Regions from separate parts of the Homo sapiens genome. Here region 2 is linked to region 1. Evidence: fine-mapped expression QTL. Tissue or cell type: esophagus mucosa. Region 1 holds a variant in brackets; the other region holds the start of a gene. All regions are shown on one strand. Distances are from middle to middle.

Region 1 (2,911 bases):
AATTTCCTGGACATACAAGTCATATAAATTTTAGCCTTAACTCTTTGTGGTACGAATCCTTAAAAGAGACTTCACTGATACATATACAATAATGCTAAAGTCAAAACAGCTAAGTGCTTGTTTTCTCATATGATTATGAAGTGGGATTTTTTTCTAGTCTATACTTTACTAAGGTTTGGTTCATTGGGGGCCTTCATTAGTGTGTGTGATGGTTTTAATTCTTACTCTTACTTCTTACAAGGGCCCAGAGCCTTTTTCTGCTACACCCATATGTCTGTTAAATCAAAAGCTGCATGATCAGAGATCTAAATGTGAAAAGCAAAACAATAGAGCTTTTAGGGAAAAAAATAGAGAATATCTTCATGACCTTAAGATAAGCAGAGATTTCATGATCAGGACATAAAAGTACTAACCATTTAAGAAAACATTGTTAAATTGGATTGTATTGAAACTAAGAACTTCTGTTTATCAAAAGGTACCATTAACAAGTGAAAAGAGAAGTCACAAAGCAGGTAAAGGTATTTGCAATGTATAGATCCAACAGAAGATTGTATCTAGACTATATAAGAAACACTTGTAAATCACAAAGAAAAACAAAAATAACCCCCCCAAAAAAACAAAGATACTGGAATGACTAGTAAACATATGAAAAAGTATTTAACTTCATTAGTCATCAGGGAAATGTGAATTAAAACCACAGTGTGAAATTTCTTTATACCTACCGGAATGGAAAAATGTGAAATAATAAAAAATTAATTGTATTAAATGTAAGCAGTCTTATACACTGCTGGTGGGAGGGTAAATTTTTACAACAAATTTGGAAAACTGGAAGTATCTAATGAAGCTTAATATACACATATCTTATCTCTCAGCGATTCCACTTCTAGTATATGCCTAACAGAAATACAAATATTTCTCCATCAAAAGACATGTATAAGACAATGCATCATTATTATCAGCATTATTTGTAATAGCTCCAAACTGGAACATTCCAAACATTCATCACCAGTATAATGGATAAATAAATTGTGATGTGTTCATACACTGGAATACTATACAGCAATGAGAATGAACAAATTACACCTCCATCCAAAACACGGGTGAATTTTACAAGCGAAGTATTGAGCAAAAGAGGCCAGATAAAAAAGTACATACTATATAAGTCCATTCTATAAAGTTCCAAAACAGATAAAATTGACCTACAATGTTAGAAGTTAGAATAGAGTTACCTTTGGGAGATAGTGACAGAACAG[G/A]ATGTAAAGTGAGGCTTCTGGGGTAATGCTCTGTTTCTTGATCTGGGTGTTGGTTACATGGATTTGTTCACTTAAAGAAAATTTATTGGCCAGGCAAGGTGGCTCACGTCTGTAATCCCAACACTTTGGGAAGCTGAGGTGGGCAGATTGTCTGAGGTCAGGAGTTTGAGACCAGTCTAGCTAACATGGTGAAACCCTGTCTCTACTAAAAATACAAAAAAATTAGCTAGGTGTGGTGCCATGCACCTGTAATCCCAGCTACTCAGAAGGCTGAGGCAGGAGAATTGCTTGAACCAGGGAGTTGGAGGTTGCAGTGAGCCGAGATCTTGCCACTGCGCTCCAGCCTGGGTGACAGAGCGAGACTCCATAAAAAAGAAAAGAAAAGAAAAGAAAAGAAAAGAAAAGAAAAGTTATCAAGCTAGACACTTAAGATATATACACTTTTCTATTTATATGTTATACTTCAATACAAATTAACTTTCGGAAAATAGAAAAAGAACTGAGGCCCAGGTTTGGATATGGAAAAATAAGTAATGAGAGGTCATTGGTATCTTAAAGTTAAAAATTGTTTTTTCGTTTTGCCAAATTTTTACTTTAGTTAGAGTTAGTTTACTTTAATTAGAGTTAATTTAATTAAAGTTTTACTTTAAATTCGTTAATTATGACCAATGTCATAAAGCTTTTCCTCTATGTTTTCTTTTAGGAGTTTTAGTATCAGATTTTATGTTTAAATGTTTAACCCATTTTGAGTTTATTTTTGTGTAAGGTGTAAGATAAGGGTCTAATTTCATTCTTTTGCATGCAGGTATTGAGTTTTCCCAACACTATTTGTTGAAGACACTGTCCTTTCCCTGTTGTGTATTCTTGGTACCTTGGTTGAAGATCAGTTAACTATAGATGTGTGCGTCTAATTCTGTGCTCTCTATTCTGTTCCATTGGTCTATAGGTCTGTTTTTATGATGGTACTGATAAAAACTTAATATCCAAAATACAAGGAGTGGCCAAATGGCTGACTAGAAGCAGCTAGTGTGCATGGCTGTCATGGAAAGGAAGAGAAAGGGTGAGTAAATACAATATGCTCAACTGAAACATCCAGGTATGCCCATTGGGATTAATCAAGGAAACAACTTGACCCACAGGGAAGGGAGAAAAGTGAGACAGGACAACAGCCCACCTGGGAGCAACACAGAGCCAAAGGATCCTCCCATGCCCAGGGAAGTAATGAGTGAATGAGTGACCCCTGGAAACCATGCTTCTCCCACAGATCTTTGCAAACCTCAGGTCAGGAGATCTTGTGAACCCACTCCACCAGGGCCTTCAGCATTCAGTCTGACAGTCAGAGCTATGTGGAGTTTCAGCAGAGCTCAGGCGTGCACAGAGACCCTGGAGCCTTAGATACTTGGGATTTCTGGCAAAAGTAGCTGCAGCTTCAGCAAAGTGGGAAAGTAGAATAGTAGGAAAGAGGCAGAATCCAGAGGGCTGAGCAGCAACAGCCTGCAGGCCCCACTTCCATGGCACCTCACAAGATAAGACCTACTGGATTGGAGTTCCAGCTGGCTACCAGTAGTGGCATTACACCTCCCTAAGAAGGAGCTCCTTGGGGGAGGTGTAGTCCACCATCTTTGCTGTTCGGGTACCTTAGCTGTTCTAGCCTTCAG
Region 2 (2,911 bases), 59 kb before region 1:
AGGTTGCTGTATCTGGGGCCGCAGGTGCCTGGGGGCGCGCTGGGCTCGCCGGGCGGCGGCGGCGGCAGCGGCAGCACCGCGCGAGGAGGCACCGGCTGCCGCTCCCGGCCGGCCCCCCATGGGGGCCGCATGGCGCTGCTCAGCTCCCTGGCCCGGGGCCGGGCCCCCGCGCACAGCCACAGATGGTCAGCGAGCAGCACGGTGAAGAAGAGCAGGGACGCCAGGGACAGTCGCCATCGCTGCGCCCGCTCGGAGTCGGCGCAAGGTTTGTCGCTCGGCCTGGGAGCCCAGCAGCAGCAGCAGCAGCAGATAGTCAGCGCGGCGGCGTCTTTCCCGGGCCACATCCAAGCGCCCCTGAACATATTTCAGGGGGGTCCGGGCTGGAGGGAACAGGCAGGCGCGAGGCCAGACGGCCGTCTGGGGCGGGCGGGCTGCGCGCCGCTCTGCGCTCCTCGGCGCCGTCCAGGCTCTACCTCGGGGGCTGCATGGTGAGGCAGGCCGGCCGGCGCGATGCCCCGCTCAGGCCGGAGTCGCGGGGCGCTCTGGTGCCGTCTCCGCGCCGCTCCCGCGCTCCGTCGCTCTCAGCCCGGGCGCCGCCGCCCGGCCCGCTAGGCGCTGCCCGGCGTCCCGGCTGGGGGCGGTGCGGGGCACTGGGGCGGTGGCGGCTGCGGCGGCGGCGCCGCACTCCTCATAGTGTCGGGCCCCTCAGCTGCCCTCGGCTCCGTGCCACTTCACTCCGCGCCGGCGGCCGCCCGGCTCGCACTCCAAACCGGCCGTCTCGGTTCGGCGCAGCTCTGCGCCCCTCAGCGCCGCCGTGCGGGCCCCGCCGCCGCGCTCCGCTCCGCTCCCCTCGCCCCGCGCCGCTCCGCTCCCGCCCGTCCGCCCGCTGCCCGCTCCACGCCGCTCCCTGCCTCGCTCGCGCCCTCCTAGGCCGGCCGGCCGGTCCGTTGCCGGGCCCTTCGGGCTTCGTTCGCGCTCCGGGTGTTCGCCGGGGCCAGTCCCTGGCGGGCTCCGCTCTGGCTCCGCACCCGCTGCTCCTGGAGTTCCGGCTCGGGCGGGCCACCTGGCTCCCGGCAGCGCCACAGGCGCCGGACGCAGACACCGGGCTTTACTTAGTGCGCCTCTCGCTTCCGCCTCTCGTTCGCACCGCTGTGGCTGCAGCCCAGCGGCACGGCCCCGTGGCTCCCGCTGGCCATGCACCCTCAGTCTGTCGCCATCTTCCGCTGTGCGGAGAACACCTTGAGAGCCCCTGTGCAAGTGTGTTTGGCGGGGAGCAGGGCGGAGAAAGAGGCACGGAGAGGAGGAGGGAGCGGGACTGGTGCCCCGACTGCGCCTGCGCCTCAGGACTCCCCCCACCCCACCCCGCCCCAGCCCCCGCCGGCCGCAGCCGGTGCTGTTTGGGGATGTTTCCAGTCCACCCCCAACTCCATTCACTTCAGCGCCTCCGTTCATCCGCCCGCTGCCCGCGTGCACATGCCACACGCTGAGTCCCAGGCCTCGGCGCTCCCCCTCCCCCACTAACCCGGGCGCCCGCCTTCCTCTCCATGGCCGTCCCTCACTCCCCCGAGGGCTAGGGGACTTCTGAGGGTGATTCTTGGAGGCAAGGAGCAGCAGGCATCTCGTAGCTGCTTGCTGCCTCTCTGGGTCGCCTCCGCCGTCCCCGTGACTGGAAGACGCTCGAGCCGGCTGCGGATCGGACCAGTCCAGTGTCCCTAACTCCACCTTCGCCCTCACCGTCCTGCCCGAGGACAAGGCGGCCCTTGGTGCTGAAGGACAGCTCCCAGCTTAGCTGCTGAGGAAGACTGAGTTTGGAGAGCGTCCTGGAGGGGGCAAGGCGGTGGGCTAAGATAGTAGTGGTGGGGTGTCGGTGTTTGCCCTTAGGAATATTTCCAGCAGCCTCCACCCCCCACCCGCCCGCCCCCCACCCAAGCACCAGCCCCCGTCCTAGCTTTTTGGCTCCCCCTACAGGCTGCTGAGAATAGCTGACTGAGAGTTAGAGAAGCTGCGCCGCCCGGATGGAACCATGTGCTTGGGCCCTCACAGAGTCACATGGCACTAGGAATTCGGACGTACAAACATCCTGACGCGCCACTAACCTTGTTTGGACTCCACTGACCCTGTGGTCTGCTTGCCTTCCTCACTCCCAGTAACTCACATTGTAATTTTTTGTCAACCGTTGCCGGCAAGCATTTGTTAATGTTAAGAATAACAATAAAGAAAATAGCCTTAATTGAGCGCGTACTATGTGCTAGGTACTGCTCTATACATTTTGCATGCATTCGTCATCCAATCTTCACAACAGTGTTATGAGATAGGTACTACTGTTATCTTCATTTACATACAAAGAAGCTGAGGTTTAGTGTGGTTGTTGCCTAAAGTAACCAGAGCAGCTAAAAAAGAAACTCAGTCTGACTCTAGAATTCTCTTAACACTCCAGTAAGGCCCTGGAAAGATGAAAGAGCCAAGGCATTCCTTCCTTAAAGGAAATTATAGTCTATATAAGGAAACAAGACATGTATATTGGCTAGTGGGAGGATTCATGAACTAGAGCCTTGGATAAATAACTCAACTGCTGATATGCTGTGTACCCTTGAGAGTCTTTTCCTTTTCTGAGTCTTGGTTTTCCCCTGAGTAACACGAAGGGATGCCAAGGATCAAATGAAATGGGTGGGCATCGTTAGCACTACTCAGAGGTGGACTGGGGTGGGTACATAAAAGGTTTCTGGAAGAGGGACAAATGGAGCTAGTTTCTAAAGTAGCAGGATTAGGGTGGGTGGTTGAGAAGGGCATTCCAAATAAAAGGAATGCAGATGAAAAGTTTCAGGGGTAGGGAGCAGCTTTGTATGTTTGTGAAGCCACGAGTGTGGCAGTTTGGCTATATTGATGGTGAGAATTTGTGGGGAAGGGAGTA

Direction of the effects. Positions count from the first base shown, and alleles are read on the strand shown. Sizes are in standard deviations (SD) of each study's normalised expression.
As copies of G replace A in region 1, the expression in esophagus mucosa of the gene that starts at base 1,319 in region 2 goes up (moderate effect, 0.43 SD a copy in GTEx).

Evidence for each region.
Region 2: it holds the start of NALF2, and the variant in region 1 is fine-mapped to the expression of NALF2 in esophagus mucosa (GTEx, PIP above 0.99). The same link has a PIP of 0.9 or more in esophagus muscle.

Annotation. Positions count from the first base shown.
Region 1 is chrX:69,443,795-69,446,705 of GRCh38, reverse strand. No RefSeq gene overlaps it. Among named protein-coding and RNA genes, the nearest start is that of NALF2, 59 kb to the left of the region's middle. The variant G/A (reference allele first, on the strand shown) is at 1,254.
Region 2 is chrX:69,502,734-69,505,644 of GRCh38, reverse strand. NALF2 (NALCN channel auxiliary factor 2) reads right to left here and starts at 1,319. Exons shown (of 3, transcript NM_015686.3): 1 at 1-1,319. The coding sequence starts at 362. RefSeq lists a silencer at 193-366.